Linked DNA regions of Homo sapiens. The protein of the gene in region 6 interacts with the protein of the main gene of each other region in a pairwise test. Each region holds a gene or a part of one and is shown on either strand. Other genes may lie near its edges. The genes, in order: SAPCD1, NUDT10, KIAA0408, CNNM1, SAXO1, HSF2BP and CTTNBP2NL.

Region 1 (3,921 bases), on a different chromosome or scaffold from region 6:
GGTCCCCATGGCTCCGAATGCTAACCTCTGCCCTCTTTGCAGGTGGATGGGCTCGCGCTTCTGGCCGCTGTGCTCCGACACTGGCTGGCACGTGGACCCACATGCCCCCACATCTTTGTGGCCACCAACTTTCTGAGCCTTGTTCAGCTACAACTGCTGCCACAAGGGCCCCTGGTGCAGTATTTGGTGAGGAGACCAATCTAGCTCCTCGGGGACCCCCAGGCTGGGCATTTCCCAGAGGTGGGGATTGGCTCCTCTATCAGAACAAGGGCTCCCTCAGCACAGAGACCACATCCCTTCCCTTTTCTCCCTCCCCACAGGATTGGCCAAGGGTTTCAGGACAGGAAGGAGGTGATTGATGATACACTGTCTTTTATTCTCTTTTAAGACCATGGAGACCTGTGAGGATGGCAACGATCTTGTCTTCTTCTATCAGGTTTGCGAAGGTGTTGCGAAGGCCAGCCATGCCTCCCACACAGCTGCCCAGGCTGGGCTTCCTGACAAGCTTGTGGCTCGTGGCAAGGAGGTGATGAGATCCAAATGTGCAACCACCTCCACATCAGAGCTCCCTTTCATTCCTAGTCCTACTGGGCCTGGGTCTAGGTCCACAGGATTTCTGACCCTTATTTCCCCTTCTCTTCCCCACTCCCCTTACTCCTCCCACCTTCTTGCTTGTTCCTAGGTCTCAGACTTGATCCGCAGTGGAAAACCCATCAAGCCTGTCAAGGATTTGCTAAAGAAGAACCAAATGGAAAAGTGCGTATATGGCCCCAGTGTCTTTACCCTCTCTGCATCTTCTCCTGCAACTCTTCTCCCCTTTTCAGGGACTCAGCCTTCCTCCAGCACTTTGCCCTTCAGAAACCCACCATTTCTTTCTGAAATCCCTAAATCTTCAAGATCCCAGGTTTTCTGTGCCACAGCCTCTCCCCTCTGCCCAGGGATTTGGTTGTCCATTCTGCCATAAATCTTGCGATTTTCTCTCTTCTTCAGTTGCCAGACATTAGTGGATAAGTTTATGAAACTGGATTTGGAAGATCCTAACCTGGACTTGAACGTTTTCATGAGCCAGGAAGTGCTGCCTGCTGCCACCAGCATCCTCTGAGAGTCCTTCCAGTGTCCTCCCCAGCCTCCTGAGACTCCGGTGGGCTGCCATGCCCTCTTTGTTTCCTTATCTCCCTCAGACGCAGAGTTTTTAGTTTCTCTAGAAATTTTGTTTCATATTAGGAATAAAGTTTATTTTGAAGAAAGATATTGTTTCTTTAGTCTCAAAACAAGAGACTAGGAAAGATCCAAAACACAGAGCAGGAGTCCACAGGGGAACCTGCCCTGCCTCAGTAAAAATACAGTGTTGTTGCTGTAGGAAGACTCCCGGATTCTACCCCAGGATACTTCATGAGAACGAACCCCTTCAGAGAGGCCCTACAAAACAGATTAGAGGGAAGACAGAGGGGTCCAAGGGAGATGGTCTCTCTTCTCAAGTAGGAACACCCCAGCCTCAGACAGACACAGCAGGAAGGGGCCTGAGAGGCTGACAGAGGCAGGATGGGTGCAAGGCAGGGGTGGAGGGGAGGGACCAGCCCGGGCTGCACCAGTGGGAGTGGCTCCACCCTTCCCACCTCAGAGCCATGGGGAGCCAGGGCTCTGGCGGGGTGCCCTTGGTGCAGGCTCCCTACACAGTCCTGCTGCTGCCGCTGGGGACAAGCCGCCAAGACCCAGGGGCCCAGAGCTTCTTCCTTTGGGTGAGTATCAGCCCAACAAGAGGTCCCAGGGGAACTCTCTCAATAGATCTGCCCTTTATATTTCCATTCAACTTGAGGGCCCACAGTGTTCCCGCCTGCCTCCCCTTGCCCTCCAGGTCCTCAGTGGCCAGTCTGGGTTCACACTCAGTGACCACACAGTGAACCCAACTAGGGGTGGAGAGAAAGGGCCATAACCCAGAGCCCTACTGTGGCGTGAGAGTCAGCCTCTGTGATTGCCTTTCCCAGCTACGCAGGATGCAGGCTCTGGAGAGAGAACAGGATGCCCTGTGGCAGGGTCTGGAGCTGCTACAGCATGGCCAGGCCTGGTTTGAAGACCATCTGAGGGAGGCACAGCGACAGCAGCTGCATCTAGGGGCCCTTGGTGAGGTATGGGGGCTGCCCCTCTGTGTGAATGGGGGGAGGACCAGGGAGGGAGGAACAGGGAATGTGTAGACACAGCCTGAGACCACTCTGGAGAGGGGAGAGTTAATGGTCAGGGATCATGAGTTGGAGGCAGCATCGTAATGACAGGATGCCACCAAGTGTTAAGTTGGTGTTCATTGTTGGGGCTGGAGGAAGCTGGTCTGCATTCCATTCAGAGGGATTTGGATCACTCCATGGAGATGAGGGTGTGGCCTGGATTATTCCAATGGGGCAGGGATGGACAGGGAGGCTCCATGAAGAGTAGTGAAAGGGGGTATTGTGCTATTTGAGGGAGATGGAGGAACTGATGTGCTAAAGAGATGGAGGTGGAGAGTACTGGATTTTCCCACCTGCCTGGGAGGGTACTGGGACGAGGGGATCCAGATGAGAGGGATGGCCTGTGGTGACAGGAATAGAGTGGCAGACGACCTCAGGTTTTCACCATGTTGTCAGCCTCCAACTCCTCCTCTAGAATTTTCTAACAGATTTACACTCAGAGCCTGGTCGCCCCCCGTTAGCCCAGATTCAAAAGGTGAACATCTGTTTGCAGAATCTGATTCATGAGAAGGTGAGTTTATTGTTTTCAGTTTAGACTTTTGGGAAGTTGGACTAGAGAGGGGAGTTGTTGGGGTCAGTGCTGGCTTAACAGAAAACACAGCGAATTTCCCCTCCAGTTCTCCCCAAGTCCACTGAACAAGGCTAGTTCCTGCACCACCCAGGATTCAAAGGAAAGACGAAGGGAGCAGAACTTGTGGCAGCAACAGGTAAACTTCAAGAAGGAGGGCAGGAGCCCCACCCTACAGGGCTGGGAGGAGCCCAGAGGCCCCATCTGTTTCTCCTCCAGGAGTTGTCAAGGCAGCAGAAAGGAGTCACCCAGCCAAAGGAGGAGATGGCTCAGCGGGGCTGCACCAAGGGGCCAAGAGGCCCTACCCGTGTCTAAACCCTCCTCTCACTCCCCTAAGCCTGGTGAAAGAGTCAGAAGCCCCAGGCTCCTTTTTCTGTTTCTTAACTCAACAGCTAAAAAATGGCTCCAGGTAGTGAGTCAATGAAGTTCAGACATGTTGGTGTAAAGTTTCTCCTCTGCTCCTGAAAACTTCATCTTCTTGGTGTCTCATGTCCTCATTCTCCCCTATATGACATGCAAAAACGATCTTTCTTTGAAATCCCTCTGGGAAGAAGCATGTTTATTGAAACTGTCCTTCAGCCTTAAATACAAAAATAAAACTGAAACTGCTCCAGAAAGCAGCTTTCTCCAAAAATGTCTTTGGTTTGTTTCTCATAGGGTTAGGAAAAGTGCATTGTGGGAATATCCATTGCCCTCTATCCCAGTCTTGCAGGGTGTTTTGTTTTGTTTTGTTTCTGAGATAGGGTCTCACTGTCGCTCAGGCTGTAGTGCAGTGGTTCGACCACAACTCACTGCAGCCTCAACCTCCTGGGCTCAAGTGATCCTCCTGCCTCAGCCTCCCAGAGTGCTGGGATTACAGGCGTGAGCCACTGCACCCAGCCCCAGTCTCGAAGTTTCTAAGAAAGGAAAGGGATGTGATGGAGAAAGAAAACCTTCATTGGCTGGGCACGGTGGCTCACGCCTGTAATCCCAGCACTTTGGGAGGCCGAGGCAGGCAGATCACCTGAGGTCAGGAGTTTGAGACCAGCCTGGCCAACATAGTGAAACCCTGTCTCTACTAAAAATACAAAAAATTAGCCGGGCGTGGTGGCGGGCACCTGTGATCCCAGCTACTTGGGAGGCTGAGGCAGGAGA
Region 2 (4,069 bases), on a different chromosome or scaffold from region 6:
CGAGGTGGGCGGATCGCGAGGTTAGGAGTTCAAGAGCAGCCTGACCAACATGGTGAAACCCGTCTCTTCTAAAGCTACAAAAATTAGCCAGGCGTGATGGCACCCGCCTGTAATCCCAGCTACTCAGGAGGCTGAGGCAGGAGGATCGCTTGAACCCAGGAGGCGAAGGTTGCAGTGAGCTAAGATCGTGCCACGGCACTCCAGCCTGGGCGACAGAGCGACAGAGTGAGACTCCATCTCAAAAAATAAAATAAAATAAAATTGTGAAATAGGACGGGATCTCCATGTGCATGGTTTCCCAAACACCAAGTGGTGCTTATCAAAGAGAAAGATAGAGAAGGGTGGAGTGTGTGGAGAATAGGAGAACGTCTCTGGGCTTTAACGCAGGACTACTAGATGGGTGGTGCTCTGGTCTTTAAGGTGTACTGCATCGAAGTGCAAATGGCTGCAACACGGAGGCGAGGAGTGTACCCATGAGGAAACTGAGGTGCAGGGAGGTCAGGCAGGTTGTGAACAGGGGTTTAAGAAAAGCGTTAAATTACTGGCTGCGCCAAGATGCTCTGCAAGGTGGGAACCTGTTGAAGAAATAAAACTGCATCATGTGACTCAGCAAAGATGCCCGGCTACTGTGCCAAGAATCCCGTGGGTTGTGCAGACAACACTAGGGCCCAGGTCCCATGAGTAAGCCAGAATGGTTGATAGTGGGGGAGGATGATGACGACGCTGCCTTTGCCCCTGTCTTGTGTGAAACAACTGCCTGTGGGTTTCCTGCAGCGCAGTGGGGAGTGAGAGGAGAAACGTCCTGCCGTGCCACAGTGAGTTTGGGTCAAAGGCACACATGGAGGCAGTCTTGGCCAAAGTCACAATGCGGTGAATTTCGCTGTGCGCCAAGGAGGTTCCTGGCCCCAGGAGTGCGAAGCGCCTGCGCAGTGGGCCCCAGGCGTTGCGCGCTGCGGGAGCCAGGAGACCCCCGCCCCTGGCCCCTCGCCCCGGTTCCTCGCCCCTCAGCCCACGCCCTCCCCTGCGAACGCGCACGTGAACGGGAGCGCGGACGCGCCCGAGAATGCGCTTCACCTCGCAGAAGCGGGTGGGCTCTGTGGAGAGTCGCGGGCTCGCGGGCAGCAGCGCCTCCTCCACTCCGGCGGGCCCGGGTTCGGCCGGCCGCCCATCGGACTGGCGGACTGGCTGACTGACACGCCTCGCTTGCCCCCGCCTCCGCCCGTGCCCCGCCCAGCTTCATCTCTCCCTCCGCTCCCCGGGCTCGGGGGCAGACGGCAGACGGAGGCGCCTCTCTCTCCCCGCCCCTCTCCTCGGCCCTTTCTCTTCCCAGCACCTCGGCTGCTGCCCGGCAGCGGCAGCAGCTGCGTCGGCGGCCCACACAGCAGCGAGAGGCGAGAGGAGGCTGCCTCGAGGATGAAGTGCAAACCCAACCAGACACGGACCTACGACCCCGAGGGGTTCAAGAAGCGGGCGGCGTGCCTGTGCTTCCGGAGCGAGCGCGAGGACGAGGTCCTGTTAGTGAGTAGCAGCCGGTACCCGGACCGCTGGATCGTGCCGGGCGGGGGCATGGAGCCCGAGGAGGAGCCGGGCGGTGCGGCGGTCCGAGAGGTGTACGAAGAGGCGGGAGTCAAGGGGAAGTTAGGCCGGCTCCTGGGCGTCTTCGAACAGAACCAGGACCCCAAGCACAGAACGTACGTGTATGTACTGACTGTCACGGAGCTGCTGGAGGATTGGGAAGATTCGGTTAGCATTGGGAGGAAGCGAGAGTGGTTCAAAGTCGAAGATGCCATCAAGGTTCTCCAGTGCCACAAGCCCGTGCACGCCGAATATCTGGAGAAACTAAAGCTGGGCGGTTCCCCAACCAATGGAAACTCCATGGCCCCATCCTCGCCAGATAGCGATCCCTAGTATGTACCGCTTGCGCCCGCACAGACTTCTGTTTGTCTGCCTTGCTTAAAATGCATCCCGCCTGGAGCACCTCTCGTACCATGTGCGGTCTCATGGGCAGGAGGGAGGCTTTTGTTTCCTTGGCAGACCCTCTGAATCACGCTTGCAAACTGTTGCCAGGCCCTGTTTTCAGTTGGCACGTTTTTCAGTTGCTTTCAAAATCGCTTCTTGGTTACCCTGTAAAATGTTTCGGAGAAGCCTATGCCGCTTGGGGTTTTAGGTGCTGTAACTGTTCACCCTGCTTTTGGGCGGGGGGGGGGGGGGTGGGGGGCGAGGGGTGGGCGGGGAGTGTGTGTGTCTGCCTGTGCGCCCTGTGATGTTTTTGGTTCTTTTATATTTCACACATATTCGTGGGTGCGTGCACATTTTTGATACCAGCCTTGTGGTTTGTTTGGTAGTGGAGGCCTTTAAAGTCTGACCAGCTTGGTTGTGTGGCATCTTTTAGTATTTTTTTCCCTTGAGTTGTTTTCTCCTTCACAGCGTTCGCCCTTGTTGTCAGGGAGGCCTTCTGTGGTGGGAGTTGGTTTAAAAAATCAGTTTTGAATTCGTAAAAACATTAGGAAATCCTACATCTTGTGCTCTTTCTGCACTCGACAGTCGCTCTAGCCTCTGAAGTGGTATCTCATTTGCCCCTTTCAGAAATTTCTTTTTCTATTTCTATGTAGGTCATTTGGTTTTCAAAAAATTTTCACAAGTAATTTTTCACTGCTGACTTTAAATCGCTATTTCCCATGTAGATTAACCTTACTGAATAGATGCTGCTGGGGATCTGCTAGCCAAACGCATCTGATCAGAAAAACTGTATTCACAGAATTTGATTTCCCATACTCAACTTCCAACTCCCATTGCCCCTTACTGGATACCATAGAAGAACCATGGTTCTCTGGATTTAAGTTTGTTTTTGAAAGAAAGTGGTTTCCATTCCATATTTGAATGTAGTGACATTCCGCTTAACCTCCCTGACTCCCAGTAACCACAGGAATGGAATCTTTTGTGGTGATTACATCCCAACAGAGTTAGCTCTAGCGATGTTCAGCTGGTACAGAATTGTCAAACTATTAGGATTCCTGAACAATCTCTCAATGATAGAGAGTAATTGTTTTGTCTCACAGTACCACCTTTTCTGGGTGCCAAATTAAAAGCTCTCACGTTTGCCTCAGTACTTGCTTGAAGTCAGGAATCCCATCTAGAATAGCTAAATCTCTCTTCTGGACCTTCCGCTGTTCCCCCAGCCATGTCTGACATTAGGTAGAAGGAAAACCTATTTTGTGAAGAGGGTATTCGAATGAAAAGATCATTCCTAATTTCTAGAGCAACCTAGACTATGTCATATCTCTTAAACATTATTGACAGGTATTGGGGTCCCTTAACTTTTTTTTTTGAGATGGAGTCTTGTTCTATGGGTCACTGTTACGCACTTTCTATTAAGAAATTTTGGGTTTCGCTATGTAAATTCTAGGTTCCTCTTCTGGATTTCATCTCCCATGACAGTTGAGGAAATGTCTAGTTTTTGAAGAGAGTATGGGTGGGGGCTGGGGGACCGGGCGCGGTGGCTCACGCCTGTAATCCCAGCACTTTGGAAGGCCGAGGCGGGCAGATAACGAGGTTAGGAGATCAAGATCAGCCTGGCCAGCATGGTGAAACCCCGTCTCTACTAAAAATACAAAAACTAGCTGGGCATCGTGGTGTGCGCCTGTAATCCCAGCTACTCGGGAGGCTGAGGTAGGAGAATCGCTTGATCCCGGGAGGCGGAGGTTGCAGCGAGCCGAGATCGTGCCACTGCACTCCAGCCTGGGCGACCGTCTCAAAAAAAAAAAAAAAAAAAAAAGACTGATTTTCCCCCTCGTCCCTGTCCCCCAATGGACAAGTGCCTACTTTTTCTTATTCTAAAAAAAATTTGAAGACGACATGTTGGAGTAAAGGTAAGTTTGGTTGCTTGATACAGAATTTGCTCTGGATGGTTAACATATTTTCTAAGAAACCTATGTTCTGTTGATCAGGTCACCTTTGAAAGAAGTAACCCTGAAAGGGGTGAAAGGTGGCCATAAATATTTTTAAGTCCTGTAGAAAATTGATAAAAATTGAAGTGTGTATGTGTAAGAGCTTGTAAAGAAACAGCAAC
Region 3 (3,500 bases), on a different chromosome or scaffold from region 6:
GCGTGAGCCACCACGCCAGGCCAGAAACTGTAATTGTATATTTCTCTGTTCACTAATTCTTAAAGCAAATCTTCCAATTCTCTTTGTAATCTATTAGTAATACTTTACTCTTTTTCGTGTCTAATTAAGGTAGACCCTCCATAAAAAATCAGTAAGTAACCTCTAAAGTAGTTCTTTCTCATTCTGAGCATTTGGACAATGAAAGTGTACAACTGGGCTAATTCAGTTAAACGTATCATTAAACGATGTCAGAATTAACAGTGTGGCGTTTTGCTTATATAATCATGTTCTACTAAAATATTTAATGCTTAAGAGCACTTTATTTTGCTTCAATTCGTGTTTATGTAATGGAGGCCTACATACTTTTCAGAACAACATATTGTAAATATGTACACATGTACGCGTGCCACAAAAAATGCTGTTTCCATTTGGAAACAGTATATACTTAATAACAGTAAGTTTTAGCCAAATTAACAAATATATTGGAATTCTCTACAAGTTTAGTAAAGATGGATTATTCTAGGATCAACATTTATCTCTCCTCGTGGGTCAGTAGGCTTCCTACATTCCCTTATTTTTCATTAGTTGTTAGGAAGCTCAGAAAGAATTTTTGTGCTGACTTGCAATAGATTTTCTTAGCCAATCATGTTTTAAACATAACTTTGTCCTCTATTTGCCTATTTAGCTTTTCTATTCTCTGTTAATAGGTATTTATCCACATTTTATTGTAAGCTATCCCATAATCTTTTATAATTTGAAGAGGTATAAATATGATTTATATTTATCAGTGTGATTAAGTTTGAATTGCGATATTTAGTTTTTTATTTAATATAACTCAGAAAAGACTTACTTGCCAATTTTCTTTTACAAATCACACCTAATATAATGTTCTTATTGTCACCCCATGGACTTTAGAACAAGGTTCAAGATATTTGTAATTCAAAGACATTACAATTTGACATAACCTAATGTTTCTCTCTCATTTTTCATTATCCTCCCCACTCTGCTTTATAATTAATCCATATCAAAGTACTCATTTTCCTTCGAGTAGCCATAGTATTTAATCCTTTTGCCTTTTACTTCAATCCTATATGCCTTTTACTCAAGTCATCCAAAAAATTTTTACTTTTTTTCAAGACCAAATGACACTTTCCATTTGGAATTACTCATATCTCATTGCACTTTTATTCAGATTTGTATCTGACTACTTAAAATGTTATTTCAAATTCAAGGAGAAGAACTTGAGCTCACATTACATAATGAATAAGAATTCAGCAGGCAGAGAGAAGGTAAGGGAATGGCAAGATAAAAGCTACAGAGAGAGAAATGCCAGTAGCAGAAACCCAGGAGACTACATAGTTTAATCTGAGGGTAGGTGAAGTCTCAGGTAATAGTGAAAATGAGAGACAAGTTTGGAAAGAGTTTGAGTCAGAGTGTGTAGAGCATTGAATATAACACTGAGAGGTAGACTTCATTCCACCATAAAAGGACTTGAAGTTTTTGACTGGGAGATTTATGTAAAAATGATGTATGAGGCAGTTGTGAATCCTTTTCTTATAGCAGAAACTCATTGCTTTAGCTATGTTTGCTTTTGAGAGCTTATTCTAAATAAAGTTATAACCAATACACCATGTTTTATCATTGTTTAGGATGAAGTCAGATTCTTTTCTCCAGGAAATGCCAAATGTAACTAATATACCTCATGGGGACCCCATGATCAACAATGACCAGTGCATTCTTCCAATCAGTTTAGAAAAAGAAAAACAGAAAAACAGGAAGAATCTGAGCTGTACCAATGTGCTCCAGAGCAATTCTACGAAAAAATGTGGAATTGATACAATCGATTTAAAAAGAAATGAAACTCCACCAGTTCCTCCTCCAAGAAGCACCTCTCGAAATTTTCCCAGCTCGGATTCTGAACAAGCCTATGAAAGATGGAAGGAAAGGTTAGACCACAACAGCTGGGTGCCCCATGAGGGTCGAAGTAAAAGGAATTACAACCCTCACTTCCCTTTGAGACAACAAGAGATGTCTATGTTGTATCCAAATGAAGGGAAAACTTCGAAAGATGGTATCATCTTTTCCTCTTTGGTACCAGAAGTCAAAATAGATAGCAAGCCTCCAAGTAATGAAGATGTTGGACTTAGCATGTGGTCATGTGACATTGGGATAGGTGCAAAAAGGAGCCCCTCTACTTCGTGGTTTCAGAAAACCTGCTCTACCCCCAGTAATCCAAAATATGAAATGGTGATCCCAGATCACCCTGCTAAATCTCATCCTGATCTTCATGTAAGTAATGACTGTAGCTCCTCAGTAGCAGAGAGCAGTAGCCCACTTAGAAATTTCAGTTGTGGCTTTGAAAGGACTACAAGGAATGAGAAGCTGGCAGCAAAGACTGATGAATTTAACAGAACTGTATTTAGAACAGATAGAAATTGTCAGGCAATACAGCAAAATCACAGCTGCTCAAAATCATCGGAGGATCTCAAGCCCTGTGATACCTCATCTACTCACACAGGTAGCATATCACAAAGTAACGATGTGTCCGGTATTTGGAAAACCAATGCCCACATGCCTGTGCCCATGGAAAATGTGCCTGATAATCCCACCAAGAAATCCACAACAGGCCTAGTAAGACAAATGCAGGGACACCTAAGTCCTCGCAGTTATCGAAATATGCTCCACGAGCATGACTGGAGACCGAGTAATTTGTCTGGCCGTCCGAGGTCAGCTGATCCCAGGTCAAATTATGGTGTTGTGGAAAAGCTGCTGAAAACCTATGAGACAGCAACAGAGTCTGCATTGCAAAATTCTAAGTGCTTCCAGGATAATTGGACCAAATGTAATTCTGATGTCAGTGGTGGTGCCACATTAAGTCAGCATTTAGAAATGCTCCAAATGGAACAACAGTTTCAGCAAAAGACAGCTGTGTGGGGGGGACAGGAAGTGAAGCAAGGAATAGATCCGAAAAAGATAACAGAGGTGAGAAAGCAAATATAACATAATTTGGTAGCATCCATATTAGCAATGGCTCTGAATCATGTTTATATGTCCAATTCATATAAATAGAATGAGGGCACAAGTTTTGGACTCTTCTTAGCCTCTTGACCCTGTTTGTAAATAAATATAACTCAACATGAACCTTGAAGGTGTAGTTTTTAACACTGAGAATAGTACATTGTAACTTTTGAAAAATTCTGAAATGGGATAACATAAATACAGTAAGTGGATTTAGGAACCTGAAGAAGATCAAATGTTTGCTCTTTCTTGAAAAAATACTCAGAATGGACATTACTCAATTTATAGAATTTCATTATTTTAAAGGTTCTTTTTTAAGTGTATGGAAAATATTTTTAAAATCGTTTTCATTTTTCAGTTATTAACTATGATTGGTTCAGTCATTCTCAGCATTTGACTCATGTTCTTTCTCATAGGATTAATCACATTAATATGAATATGGGAAATACACATCATTTAAAACAGTGCCTAATAGAGTCCTT
Region 4 (3,500 bases), on a different chromosome or scaffold from region 6:
TGCCTCAGTCTCCTGAGTAGCTAGGACTACAGGCATGCACCACCACACCCAGCTAATTTTTGTATGTTTAGTAGAGATGGGGTTTCACCATATTGGCCAGGCTAGTCTCAAACTCCTGACTTCGTGATCCACCCACCTTGGCCTCCCAAAGTGCTGGGATTACAGGTGTGAGCCACCGCACTCGGCCTAGATTTTATCTTGACCTGACTTAGAAATGGTCCAATCTTGGACTAAACCAGTGGGGCAGTTTATGAGGCCCTGGATTAGCTGGTGCTTAGGCCTGCATCATGGAAGGGCCACTACAGTATGCAAGGACAGCTTGGTTATTCATGACTGGATGCTATTTTATGAACAACGAAGCACTGAATTTACTGCAAAGAGCTATTAAAGCTGGTGGTGCTTTCTCACATGTAAATCTGGAGAGAATTAACATTCCTCTGTGATAAGAACATGGGTCTAGTCCACTTGTTATCCAAGCAGAAATGCTTAGGATTCGAGTCAATAGTAGAACTGGAAGTGCTCATACACATTCATAGTACACTTCCTTTTTTTTTTTTCCAGGGTAAAGTGGAGGTGGAGGTTGGTAAGGAAGGCCTTCGCTTTGAAAATGGAGCCTTTACTTACTATGGCGTCCCAGCCATCATGACCACTGCTTGCTCAGGTATTCTAGTTTCCATTTGTTTATTGGGAAAGTAATGGGATATGGTAGAAAAAGCACAGGGGTTCAAGTCTTGACTCCCCCTTTGACTCTTGTTAATCAGCCTGGACAAGCCATTTAACTTCCTTGGCTTTAGTTCCTTCCTCTGCAAAATGGGTGTATGAATCACTTTTCATTCAGTTAGTGCTTAAAAAAAAAGTGACAAAAAATTGAATTGTAAAAAGCAGTAATATTGTCAAGTGTTAGGGATCTAGGGTGGTAGATTTCAGTATGAAAAGACAAGTTTATTTTGCTTTTTATACTTGTTCCCTACCCTTCCATTTAATTGCCTGGTTTTTACAGGGTTAATTGGTGCTGGGGGTGGATAGAAGAGGGAAGATTCCCATAAGAAGTGTGTTTTCTGAGTTGCCTCTGAAACCCACTGCATGCTTCTGTCCTTAGATAATGACGTGCGGAAGGTTGGAAGTCTGGCTGGATCTTCTGTCTTTCGTATGTATCTCTCAAACCCCTTCCTCGTCCTCCCCATCGTAGTCCTGCCTCAGCCCGCTCTGGGGACCTGGACCGAGCACTTTGAGCCTGGGCTGGGGCTAAGACAAATGCTGGCAGCCCCTTTGTAATGTTCTGCCAGGAACACTGCTTCCTGCCAGGTACCCACAGACCATGGGAGCTTAGGTTCTGTGTGTCTGGAATGTTTTCTGCTGCTTCTCTGCTCACATGGTTGGGGGGATGCAGGGGTTGTGAGGGAAGGCACTGCTTATTGCCACCTTCCAGTGAATGCAGGCAGGTGATTTGTGTGCTTGGGCAGAGGCTCAGCCCTTCCTTCTGTGCAATAACAATTCACCCATGGCCTTTACTCAAACACTGTCATATGCTATTATTGTGTCTGTGGGGTTTGTCCTCAGTAAGAAGTGACTGCAAGATTTGGGGATGTAAGTTCCACCTTTGTGCAATACGTTGCTTATCTGCCTCTCTTTCTTGGTTCTCCACCTCTCAGCTAGTGGAGAGGTATCTGCCAGCTGGCTGTGCATGCTGTTGGTGGGGGGCAGGCACAGGGCTGATGGCTGGTTTGCTCTGCCCTTTCTGTGCTGTGCCTTCTTGCTGTTTTCTGTGTAGTTATTGCACTTGTGCTTAAAGGGCATGGCATTTTTTGTGATTAAAAGTGTGATACAGAAAGAATTATTTCTCTAGATTTCTTTCTGATTCACAGTTCTGAATTTTGCATTGCTTTCAGCTGTTAGTGTTTACAGTGACCACTTCAATGCCAAATAGGGTCTTTCCTCTCATCATAAAAAAAGATTTTACATATTGCCTTGTGGTGGGAATTATCAGAGGGTCCCAGAGCTTGATATCATAGTCCCTGGAACATGGCAAGGTAGATACCATTTTAACATGAGTGAAACTAAGGAAATGACTTGCTTCAAATCACCCAGTAAGTTGGTGACCGGCCAAGATGCTTCCTGGTGTCCTGGCTAGTTCACACAGCACAATAAAATACAGATTTCAGATCCATCATATTCTGGAATGCAATTTCTAAGTGGAAATAGTGGAACAATTTACAGTGTAATTGTTACAGTGTAATAGCCCAGCCAGTGGTTGAAATGAAGTACCTGCCCAGTGTGAAGAGTGGCAGAACTTGAGTTGGAGGAGATCTGTAAAATTGAAAAGACCCTGGTACATTATTATACTTAAGACAATGAATCTCAATCAAGGTTGATGAAGGAAGCATTAGTGTTCAGTAGAACTCTGGATGGGTGAGGGACGGGCTACAGGACTTTGGCAAACCTTAGTTCTCTAAAGGAAATCTCCATCATCCATCACATTAGGGACTACTCCTGGGATTCTAATATGTTACCTAGAAATGTCTGTGATCTCTTCCAGAAGACTAAAAGAGGTGGAAATTCTGAGAAAAAAAGACCTACATATGGCTTCCTAGCCCACCCAATTTATATGACCTTCTTTCTTAAAAAAAAAAAAAAAGAAATTGCTGTGGCCGGGCATGGTGGCTCTCACCTGTAATCCCAGCACTTTGGGAGGCCAGGACGGGTGGATCACATGGTCAGGAGATCGAGACCATCCTGGCCAACATGGTGAAACCTTGTCTCTACTAAAAATACAAAAATTAGCCAGGCATGGTAGCACGTGCCTTTGATCCCAGCTACTAGGGAGGCTGAGGCAGGTGAATCACTTGAACTTGGGAGGTGGAGGTTGCAGTGAGCCAAGATCATGCCACCGTACTCCAGCCTGGCTACAGAGCAAGATTCCATCTCAAAAAAAAAATTGTTTTAAGTAGAAGGAAGATGTTATCTGATTTCTTCCTTTCCTTCCTTCCTGTTTCTAGTTCTTTCTTTCAAAAGCTTTCAGTTGCATCAGTGAGATAGAAATAAAGTTGCAACATTGATTTCTCCTTTAAAACTAGTTAACTGAAAAGAAACATAGCACTCTTTCTCTTTCTCTCCCCATGTTACTGAGCATCTCTGTAAATCTTCAGAAGGAAAAAGAAATATTATTAGCCAATGGGGTAAAAAGACATTTTCCATCCTCCCCGAACCCATACTTAGTGTAGTGAAGTGTGAAGTAACTGCAAAGGCCAGCCATACCCCACAGTTATCCCGGGTGAATGCTCAGCCCATGGTCCAGCCACCCAGCATCTTTCACTGGCCAAGAACCTCAACCTATAGGTTGAGGGAGAGCTTAAGTCTAAGCTAAAAGGCAATAAAATCTTGTAGGGTCTTGGCCCAGCCCCGTCCCCCTATGCTTGAAGCTAGCTTAATCAGCCTTTGAGGATGAGGAGTGAGATTATGAGTTTGCTGGAATACTGGCACGATGACCTATGCTTCAAAGT
Region 5 (3,500 bases), on a different chromosome or scaffold from region 6:
TCCAGAATAGGACTGGAAACATCTGAGACTGTGAGTTGGAGGTGCTCTTCTCTACACAATGCTGCCATCTTCTAGATCCACGGGAAGTCCAGTCTGGGTAATGGGGCAGGAGCACCCACAATGGGAGAAATGAGGCCAAAGGATTCCTGAGCTTAGTGGAAACCACTGGACAGGGGCTTGAGAATGAGAGGGAGTTGAGGGCCTTGTCTGATGCTTGACTTGAATCAGGCCACTTAAAAAAAATTTTTTTTTTAAAACAAGGTTTCCTTCTGTAGCCATGGCTGGAGTGCAATGGTGTGATCATCGCTCAGTGCAGCCTCGAATTTCTGGGCTCAAGTGATCCTTGCCCCTCAGTCTCCTAGTAGCTGGGACTACAGGCATGGACCACCATGCCCAACTAATTTTTAAACTTTTTGTAGAGACAAGGTTTTGCTATATTGCTAAGGCCAGATGATTATATTTATTCTAAGCATGTATCTTAAATGATTTGGTTTAAGTGCAGTGTTTGTGTGTCCTGATGTATTAAAACATTGTAGTTTATGCTGCTGTTTTTTCAACCTATGACTTATTAAACAATATGAACACTAAAGTTTGGGCTTCATTTTGCTGGGAAAACAGTATTCTTTGTCTCTGAGAGTCTAAAGACCATAATAAGAAGTGTGAACCATTTCTGAGCATTGCTTTTGTTTTAGGAAACCCTGGTCAACACCAAGTAAGAGTCCTAGGCACATGTATAAGGGACATGTAATCGGTAGGAAAGGGTGAGAGTAGTACTGAGGGGTGGCTTGCAAATATCTTGTTCGGTCTCCAGGTGTGGGTCTTTTTATCTCTTTATATCCAATTTGCAGGAAATGAAGAAGACTTTGTGAGATGTCTAGTTGGCTTCAGACACTGATATATTTCCTATCCTGAAAGTATAGACAGGGATGCTTTGAAGGTTGGTTGTTGCAGGTTGCTTTGTTAGCTGCCCAAAGCTTAGGAGAATGGGGACAAACCCTTGGTCTGGGGCGGAAGACCTGCCCCAACACCTAGCTCTGAGGCCCCCAGATGCAACTCCAGGTACCCTCCCTCCTCCTGATGGTGCTTCGCTAAACAAAAACTTACCCTCTGACCTGTCCTAAATTATCCTTGCCTTGTGTCACTTAAAACAATAAACATATCACCCAGAAGGCCCCTCTGCCCCTGCCGGAGTCAGAGTAACAATAAATACCATGTACATCAAATGTGGCTAAAGTAGAGGAAAGCAGATTCTGCAAGAATTTCCAAAATAAGCTGTTAATGAACATAAGGGCCTTAAAAAGAAAAAGTGGCAGGATCAAGGTTGTCCACAGGGAGGAAAAGGAGCAGATATGAATCTCTTTTTATTTCCTACCCTAAAAAGAGAAGTAAAGGGGAAATGAGTAGAAGACATCTGTGTTCTCTTTTCTACCACAATTTCATTATTTCTCAACCCTGTGCCTGCCATGATAGGCACTACTGTTCATAGACCGAGAACAAAATTATGCCACTGTCAGGAAATGTAGGGAAGCTACCATCTGGGTGTTCCCCTAGAGGCTTACAGGGGAAGGGATGCGTCAGCCCAGTGTCTGCACAGCCCAGTGTCTGCACACCCTTGTGTCTGTGCAGATTGTCGTCACCCCTCTGCTCTTAGCACTCTTATTACTGGAACATCCCACCCACTTCTTTATCTAAACAGTGACCCTGCTTAGTTTCTGAGGTTGGACATGAGGCTCCCACCTGCTGAATGAAAAAGTCACGTGGTCCAGGGCTTTGCTGGGTTTGGTGATTAAGCCCAGACACAAAAAAACACCTGGTTTCTGGAAAGGTTATCATCCCAGCGTGAGGCATGATTATAACTGCACACAACTCTTACTGACCATAAATCTTGGGGATTTACAGCAGGTGCCATGAGGGGAATGCTTGTGATTTCCAGCCATTCTTAGTGTGAAACTCTTTCTTGCAGCCCTTGGTAATTCTCTGGTGTAGAATCTGCCTTTACTTCAGATAGACCTGAGATCAATTTATGAATAAGAGGTTTGCACTTCCAGCCTCATTTCCCCATAGGCATGTCACCATGTAAAACACTTGGATCCCAATTTGAGACATTCTGTTAGCTAAACCAGCTCGCTAAAGATGGGCAAAATGAGCAGCATCAGAAGAAAGAGGTGAGTCTTCAATGGTGTTAGACGTTTATCCTAAAGGGAGTGGGACCATGGGTAGAGTGGAATGGAGGCACAGAGTGAGGAGATAGAATTGAGTTCAGACTTGATGGGTGTGGCTGAAAGGCAGACGGCAGGGAATTGGTAGCATCGACTCTATCACTTATTTGCAAGACTCCTTGGTAAACCAAGGAGAGTAAGGGAGGGAAGAGCTAAGAGAGAAAGGGCATTTAGTATCCTCCCCAAAGGTCAGGAAAGAAACAAGAGAGTTAGTAGCAGGCTTGAGTCTTGCACTGCCCATTGAATTTTATATATATATTTTTTGTTCAAAGAGACACCTGACTCTCTTACTCAGAGCTGTACCACTGGGCATATACTTAGCCTCCATAGCCTGGGCCTGAGAATTAGTGTGAACACAATGTAGGTAGAGTTCTCGGCACTGGACTTGCTTGGGCAATCTCAGAGCCTTTGAATTGTCTATACTGTATTTCTGAGTAAATTTGTAGACATTTTGGCCATTATTTCTTCAAGTAATTTTTCTTTCACGGATGCTCTGTTCACTTCTTTTCCCCAATCTTTTCTCCCCGTCCTCTGTTCTTCAGATTGGATAGTTTCTATTAACCTAGTTTCAACTTCAAGTTTTTCTCCCTTATCTCCATTTTGTGATTAAGGCCATCCAGTGAATGTTCTACTTCACATATTTTGCAGTTTCAGAATTTGCATTTGATTCTTGTTTTATATAGTTTCTATTTATTTTACCTAATTTCCTATCCTTTAATTCATTATGGCCTTACTTTGCTTTCCTTAATGAGCATGGTTTAAAAAGCTACTTTAAAATCCTTATCTGCTAATTCCAATGTCTGGTCTGCTTGGAGTTGGTCTCCATAATTATCTTTTTTTTTTCTTTTTTGAGCATGGGTCAGATTTTGGGTTGATTTTTGTACAGTGAGAATGTTGCTACATTGTGGACACCTTAGATGTTTGTTTGCATTCCTCTAAAAAGTGTTTTTATCTTTGGCAGGCAGGTAACCTGATTTGATTTACAATGCAAACTCTGTGTCTTGGGTGGCCGCTCAAATCTCACTTCAGTTCTTTAGCTTGGAATCTACCCCATATATGTGAGGTTATGCAGAGATTTGGGCCCAGTTTATGTACAGAATTTAGGGCTTCCTGTCTTTGACTCTCTCATTTCCAGGTTTCTTTCCTCATTTTGCAGCATCCGTGGTTGCTTCAAACTTGGTCCTCTTTTTTTTTTTTTTTTTTTTTTTTTTGGTGAGATGAAGTTTTGCTCTTGTTGCCCAGGCTGGAGAGCAGTGGCACGATCTCGGCTCACCGCAACTT
Region 6 (3,500 bases):
GTGTGGGGAGCGTGTGTGGGGGGGGAGTGTGTGTGCCTGTGAGCCTGTGTATGTGGGATCGTGTGTGTGGGAGCGTGTGGGTGTGTGGGAGCATGTGTGTGTGTGGGAGCGTGCACACGCACATGTATGCATGCGTGCAGGCATTTGTCAGGGAACTTCACAGAAGGGGATAAATTTGAAATGGGCCTTGATGAATAGGTAGAAATGGCAGAAAATGGGTGGGTTTGTTTTAGGACAGTGAGTAGGTCAGTTGACACAGTGGAGAGTTAATGTCATAGAGTAGTGGGGAGGTAAAGCTTAAACGTAGGTTGGGATGTGACTTTGGGACCTTGAATACCAGGTTGGTGATTCATTCTGTAGGTGGGAAGACTGGATTTTCCCTAAGGGTTTTTCAATAAAAGTGATAGGATAAGAGCAGAATTTTAGAAAGATTCACCTGACAGTGGGTGAGGATGGATTAGGAGGTGGAGTTGTGGCACATCGCGTCTACACAGGATGACTGATGAGGTGGTCATTCTAGCTGGTCTGGCTGGAGTGAGCTCGGCCCTCTGCAGGGGAGATGGGAAAGAAGGAACATGTATGAGAGCTGTGGCAGTTGAGGCAGATGCGATGGCCGGGCAGAGTGGGCACCTGGAGGGGACAAGAGGAGCCAAAAAAGATCGGTGTTTGACTCTGGGAGCATGGCGTGATCATGACTGGAAATGAAGGTGAAGAGGGGGACGTGTGGCAGGAAACCAGTGAGAAATTAGTTACTGCTAATAGAAATAACAGTTGTGTTTGACTTTAGGTGGAAAGACTAAATGTGTTTTTAAAAGTTTGTTGAGCTTTATTAGGTTTAATTTACATACTGTAAGATTGTAAATGTACAATTTAGTGGTTTTTAGCAAATTTTTAGAGTTGCATTAACCATCACCACAACCCAGTTTTAGATTATTTGATCATCCATGAAGTTTTCTTATATCATTTGTAAATGCAAATATTTCCAATTTTTTAACTGGGTTAAAATGTACATTGGTTTTAAAATTCTTCTTCAGAACTCTAGCACCCCAAAGGAAGTAACTCAAAGGTTCAAACTTGGAAATGCTTTTTGCCAAGTGATGAAGATTTAAACTACCAGAGGAGCCAGTCTTTACCTCTTTTACATGTTTTCATTAAGATTTTTTTTTTTGAAAAAAGTTATGCTAAAGGTTTGAACACCTCTGGTTTAATGCCCAGAGCAAATAGGCAGCATGTTTTTCTAGTATATTTTTATTACATTTTGAGTGAATTCTTCCCATTTACTTTCATCATCATGTACATTTGTCCTATATCATATTTATGCGTGTGAAGAGTCCACCAATCTTCAGGGTAGTTTTTGTTGCTCCTGCATGCCTCAAGCTGCTTTCTCTGTTCTTTTAATGGGAACTTTTAATGAGGGAATAGATTTTACAATATTCTACAATTAAAACTAGAATCTTCTGTATCCTGCACTTTTAAAATGTTTTCACACTAGTGTCTGTAAAAAGATATGACACTCTGATTTTCAAACTTTCAGGATAAAGCTTTGAAGTTTTTCAGCATCACTGGTCAAACAATGGAGAGTTTTGTGAAGTCGTTAGACGGTGATGTCCAGGAGCTGGATTCGGATGAAAGTCAGTTTGTTTTCGCTCTGGCTGGAATTGTCACGAGTAAGTGCAGGCGCACCTGAGAGATGTTGCCTGTTTGCTTCCAGACCACTGCAGTAAAGCAAATACTGCAATAATACATGAGTCACATGAATGTTTTTGGTTTCCCAGTGCATATACAAATTATGTTTACACTATACTGTAGTCTGTTGTATGTACAATAGCATTATGTCTAAAAAATGTACAAACTTTAATTAGAAAATTCATTATTGCTAAAAATGCTAATGATCATCTGAGCCTTCAGCAAGTTACAATTTTTTGCTGGTAGAGGGTCTTGCCGTGATATTGATGACTGCTAACTGATCAGGGTGGTAGTTACTGAAGGTTGGGGTGGCTGTGCCAATTTCTTAAAATAAGGAACAATGAAGTTTGCCACATTGATTAATTCTTCCTTTCATGTAAGATTTCTCAGTAGCATGTGATGCTGTTTGATAGCATTTTTTCCACAGTAGAACATCTTTCAAAATTGGAGTCAGCCCTCTCAAACCTTACTGCTGCTTTGTCAACTAAGTTTATGTAATATTCTGAATCTCTTGTTCTTATTTCAACAATGTCTTAGCATCTTCACCAAGAGTAGATTCCATCTCAAGAAACCACTTTCTTTGTTCTTCCATAAGAAGCAACTTATCCTTTTTTTCTGCCACCACGTCTGTAGTTACTTACTCCACTGAAGTCATGAACCCTTCAAAGTCATCCATGAGGATTGAAATCAACTTCTTCCGAACTCCTGTTAATGTTGTTATTTTGACCTCCTCCCATGAATCATGAATATTCTCTTGTTGCCCAGGCTGGAGTGCAACGGCGTGATCTCGGCTCACTGCAGCCTCCACATCCTGTATTTAAGTGATTCTCCTGCCTCAGCCTCCCAAGTAGCTGGGATTACAGGCATGCGCCACCATGCCCAGCTAATTTTGTATTTTTAGTAGAGATGGGGTTTCTCCATGTTGGCCAGGCTGGTCTTGAACTCCTGACCTCAGGTGATCTGCCCACCTCAGCCTCCCAAAGTGCTGGGATTATAGGCATGAGCCACTGCGCTTGGCTGAATCATGAATATTCTTAATGGCATCTAGAATGGTGAATCCTTTTTAGAAGGTTTTCAGTTTACTTCACCCAGATCCATCAGAGGAATCACTGTCTATGGCAGCTGTAGCGTTATGAAATGTAGTTCTTAAAAAAAATAGGACTTGAAAGTTGAAATTTCTTTTTGATATATGAGCTGAAGAATAGGTATTGTATTAGCAGGCATGGAGTCAACATTACTTTCCTTGTACCTCTCCATCATGGCTCTTGATTGACCAGGTGCATTGTCAATGAACAGTAGTGTTTTGAAAGAAATCTTTTTTTCTGAGCAGTAGGTCTCAACAGTGGGCTGAAAATATTCAGTAAACCATGCTGGAAACAGGTGTGCTGTCATCCAGGCTTTGTTTTTCTATTTCTAGAGCATAGGCAAGAGTAGATTTAGCATAATTCTTAAGGGCTCTAGGATTTTCAGAATGGTTAAATGAGCATTGGCTTCAATTAAAGTCACCCGCACCATTGGCCCCTAACAAGAGAGTCAGCCTGTCTTTTGATGCTTTGAAGCCAGGCATTGACTTTTCTCTAGCGGTGAAAGTCCTAGATGGCGTCTTCTTCCAATAGAAAGCGACTTTGTCTACATTGAAAATCTCTTGTTTAGTGTAACCACCCTCGGCAGTGATCTTAGCTAGATCTTCTGGATAACTTGCTGCAGCTTCTCCATCAGCACTTGCTGCTGCACGTTGTTTTTATGTTATGGAGACAACTTCTTTCCTTAAACCTCATGAAGCAACCTGTACTAGCTTCCAGCTTTTCTTCTGC
Region 7 (3,500 bases), on a different chromosome or scaffold from region 6:
ACTGCAACCTCCACCTCCTGGGCTCAAGCTATTCTTCTGCCTCAGCCTCCCGAGTAGCTGGGATTACAGGAACGCCACCATGCCTGGCTAATTTTTGTATTTTTAGCAGAGATGGGGTTTCACCATGTTGGCTGGCCTGGCCTCGAACTCCTGACCTCAAGTGATCTGCCTGTCTTGGCCTCCCAAAGTGCTGGGATTACAGGCATGAGTCACTGTGTCTGGCCTTCAAAGCCTGTATTTTCAGAATTATTTGTCCCTTCACCCTGATTCCTGCACACAGACCATCAGCATCTGGCCTCTGTCACATCTACTATTCCCAAATCCTGAGCCTGTCACATTCAAGAAATAGTGTGACAGGCTCAGGATTTGGGAATAGTAGATGTGACAGAGAATGGTGGTGGGAAAAGAGGATTAAATTTGTTCTGGGTAAGGGTTAAGGAGAGGAAAGGGAGGCGGGGTGTAAGATAACTAAATCTGCACCTATATAAAAGAAAGTAATATAAATGTCTAAAATTGATAAAGCAAGAGAGAACAGTGCAGTATTTAGAAATATGGAGGTTAGCTACCAAAGTGAATGGCTAAAAGAAAAAACTGGTTGCCTGTGAATACTGGGGAGGATGGGGAATGAGAAGAGGTGGAATAGAAAACTGTTTTTCATTGTAAGCACAATGACCATGTAATTTATTATTCAAACCAGAACATTTCTGACAGTCAAAGGGAATATGGTTAATAACTAAGCCAAGGTGACAGGCATAAGCTGAGACTATGAGCACCCTAATTATAAGCCTCTAGGTACTGTTTGATTTCTAACAAAGTCAGTCTTCTACTTTGATAAACCACTTAAACTTGAACCTGGGAGGTGGTGGTTGCAGTGAGCCAAGATTGTACCACTGCACTCCAGCCTGGGTGACAGAGTGAGACTTCACCTCAAAAAAAAAAAAAAAAAGAATAGATAGGTACTTTGTTTCAAAAATTTAATATTCACTTAAAACATTTAGCACTGCAATATAGTATTAAGAAATTTTGAATTATTTTTAACTTCTTCCTCTCTCCAATCACCTAGAAACACAAACTGTCCCTAGTACACCTTCCATGGGCATGAAAGCTAGCCCAACTAGCTTCAACACAACTCAGTCACCTCATGGATGAAGTGGAAATAAAGCCTGCCTATTAAACAAGAATGTTGTGAAGATTTTTAGAGAATTATGTAAAAGCTCCCCCTCCACCCAATTTAGGCAACTAACTCCCACCCACTGATACCTTTTAAATTGGAGTGTAAATGTTTTCAGATTACTTCATTCTAACCAGAGGTTAAACATTTTTGGGTCTTGGGTAACTTGGAGAATCTGATTAAAGCTATGGAAAAAATACATTTCCTACAAAAATGCATAAACTCTGAACATTCTGTCTATTTTCTGGGGGACTGTGGAACATCTGAGGCCTATCCATGGTTAAGAAGTTCCACTCTGGCCTTTCATTTGGCTTCTGTGAAGGGAAAGAAAAGATCACGGGCAAGATCCAGAGCCTAGAAAATGTATCAGATGCAATTTAAGAAGATGGCTCTAATGCTGATAACCATAAAAGTAAGGTCCACCAAATTTTGCAGCTGCTAACCCTATTTTTCAGATGAAAATGTTTCCTACCAAATGCACTGATAACTGCCTTGTTGGCATAAATCTAAACTGACAGTGTTTTAAAAATGAAGATTGTAGCCAAGCATCTTTTACAGGCCAAATTTGAGGAGTAAATGACAAGATGACAAGTTGGTGAATAAATTCACAAGCACTAGAATTCCAGTAAGATGAAGCAGAGGAAAGCACAGGTTTGCCTTCTTAGGGCTTGTTAGAAATGGAAACACACACACACACTCTTTACTAATAGGGTAGAACAGCTTTAAAGTAAATACTGTAAATAACCATAAGGTTTGCCTTCCTATTTTAGGGCTTGTTAAATATGGAAAACACACACACACACACACACACACACCCCTCACTAATAGAGTAGAACACCTTTAAGGTAAATAAACCAAGGGACTGTTTATGGTTTCATGAGCAACAAAATGCAATGAAACTCAAAACTAGGAATAATAGGAATAAATGAAAATAATCTATTGGCTTCTGTGTTTATCCTCAGGTAAATTCTTTCTCTCCCTTGGATATAGCATGCCTCAAATACCTGTTAATCTTTTTATTTATCTCTTAAGTAAGCAAATAGAGAACACTCCCGTCAGCTACAAGCTTGGCCAAACCCCAAAGTTTGAATGATCAAGAACTGAAAAAACATACAAAGTGTTTTGGAGTGACATATCAAGAAGAAATGCTGTCTTAAATAACGTGTCTGGCACGTTCTCTAAACTTAACATTTGCAATAAGCTGTGTTTTCTTTTTTATCTCCTGGCTCTTACATAAACTAAGGGGCTTTTTGATACCCGTGAGATGTCCCAATTGAATTACTGTGAAAAACTGGCAGCTGACAAGAAAGTATCAGGCATAATTTATAAAGACTTCACAAAGATTTACACATCAACTGAGGTGAACCTACCTTTCGGTGCCTGCTCTCAGCAGCAGCCAGCTGGGACAGCATGCGCTCCTGCATGTTCTTGCACTGCTTCATCACAACCTTAAGAATAGAGAGTGGATTTGTGCAGACTGGCTGCTTTTCGCCATCATTTTTCTCCTTCAGTGTTTCAAAATCTCTCTGTAGAGCCATTAAAGGATCACTGATGTTATATTTTCCATAGCGTTCTTCAATGAAAGTATCTCTGTGTTGGGCCTGGGAAAGAGGAAAAAAAATAAGCATCTTGCTTTTTAAAACTACTGAGGAAGGGGGATTTGCTATCCAGTGGTTATACATTAAAGGTTGTGGTATTAGTATAAATGTAACCTACTAATTACAAGTCAGATTGAGCCATCTAAAGAAACAGCATTAGAAAGGTGGCATGGTATATTAACAAGAACAAATACTTATAAAGCACTATGTATTAGACATTGTTTTAAATATTTATAGTCAGATTAACTTGTTTAAAATTTACAACCCTGTAAGGTAGTGCTATCATCTCGATTTTGCTGATGAGAAAACTATTCCTGGTTACTCATCTAGCAAGCTGTCTGAATTGGGATTTAAACCCAGGCAACCTGGCCCCGAAGTCTGTGTCCTTAACCTCTGTGCTTACTGACTCTGCTTATATCTGCTTATGAATGCTTATATTACCAGCAGGTACATCTTATTTTTTTCCGTGTTATGGTACTAGCATTTCTAAAACATGTTAAGTATGATAATTTTATGAGTTTATATATTTAGAGACCTAACAAAATGCCAGCAGATATATAAAGTGTGCAAAATATAAGCAGGATCACATTACAATCTAGGACTACTTGTGACCTGTACATATGAACCATTACTCAGTTGTTGATGGGTCAAGGAGGATGGAGGCACCTCATAACCAGACATGCAGACAAAACCTCTTCCACCTGCTGCCAAATTCCACCCCCTCTTCTTGT

Evidence for each region.
Region 1: the proteins of HSF2BP (region 6) and SAPCD1 interact in binary tests that used the Homo sapiens proteins (3 or more experiments, as listed by UniProt).
Region 2: the proteins of HSF2BP (region 6) and NUDT10 interact in binary tests that used the Homo sapiens proteins (3 or more experiments, as listed by UniProt).
Region 3: the proteins of HSF2BP (region 6) and KIAA0408 interact in binary tests that used the Homo sapiens proteins (3 or more experiments, as listed by UniProt).
Region 4: the proteins of HSF2BP (region 6) and CNNM1 interact in binary tests that used the Homo sapiens proteins (3 or more experiments, as listed by UniProt).
Region 5: the proteins of HSF2BP (region 6) and SAXO1 interact in binary tests that used the Homo sapiens proteins (3 or more experiments, as listed by UniProt).
Region 7: the proteins of HSF2BP (region 6) and CTTNBP2NL interact in binary tests that used the Homo sapiens proteins (3 or more experiments, as listed by UniProt).

Annotation. Positions count from the first base shown.
Region 1 is NC_000006.12:31,761,430-31,765,350, forward strand, and holds SAPCD1 (suppressor APC domain-containing protein 1), read left to right. Parts: upstream 1-1,226; 5' UTR 1,227-1,625; coding exon 1,626-1,739; intron 1,740-1,985; coding exon 1,986-2,126; intron 2,127-2,634; coding exon 2,635-2,730; exon of another isoform or gene 2,731-2,836; coding exon 2,837-2,926; exon of another isoform or gene 2,927-3,006; coding exon 3,007-3,102; 3' UTR 3,103-3,421; downstream 3,422-3,921. Other genes in the region: MSH5 (mutS protein homolog 5), read left to right, coding at 43-186, 389-526, 683-756, 991-1,102.
Region 2 is NC_000023.11:51,331,553-51,335,621, forward strand, and holds the start of NUDT10 (diphosphoinositol polyphosphate phosphohydrolase 3-alpha), read left to right. Parts: upstream 1-1,269; 5' UTR 1,270-1,413; coding exon 1,414-1,907; intron 1,908-4,069. UniProt on the Homo sapiens protein: Cleaves a beta-phosphate from the diphosphate groups in PP-InsP5 (diphosphoinositol pentakisphosphate), suggesting that it may play a role in signal transduction.
Region 3 is NC_000006.12:127,445,890-127,449,389, reverse strand, and holds part of KIAA0408 (uncharacterized protein KIAA0408), read left to right. Parts: intron 1-1,649; coding exon 1,650-2,982; intron 2,983-3,500.
Region 4 is NC_000010.11:99,363,856-99,367,355, forward strand, and holds part of CNNM1 (metal transporter CNNM1), read left to right. Parts: intron 1-561; coding exon 562-661; intron 662-1,099; coding exon 1,100-1,147; intron 1,148-3,500. UniProt on the Homo sapiens protein: Probable metal transporter.
Region 5 is NC_000009.12:18,946,210-18,949,709, reverse strand, and holds part of SAXO1 (stabilizer of axonemal microtubules 1), read left to right. Parts: intron 1-2,002; exon of another isoform or gene 2,003-2,133; coding exon of another isoform or gene 2,134-2,165; intron 2,166-3,500. UniProt on the Homo sapiens protein: May play a role in the regulation of cilium length. Stabilizes microtubules at low temperature.
Region 6 is NC_000021.9:43,628,489-43,631,988, reverse strand, and holds part of HSF2BP (heat shock factor 2-binding protein), read left to right. Parts: intron 1-1,534; coding exon 1,535-1,667; intron 1,668-3,500. UniProt on the Homo sapiens protein: Meiotic recombination factor component of recombination bridges involved in meiotic double-strand break repair.
Region 7 is NC_000001.11:112,448,214-112,451,713, reverse strand, and holds part of CTTNBP2NL (CTTNBP2 N-terminal-like protein), read right to left. Parts: intron 2,773-3,500; coding exon 2,542-2,772; intron 1-2,541. UniProt on the Homo sapiens protein: Regulates lamellipodial actin dynamics in a CTTN-dependent manner. Associates with core striatin-interacting phosphatase and kinase (STRIPAK) complex to form CTTNBP2NL-STRIPAK complexes.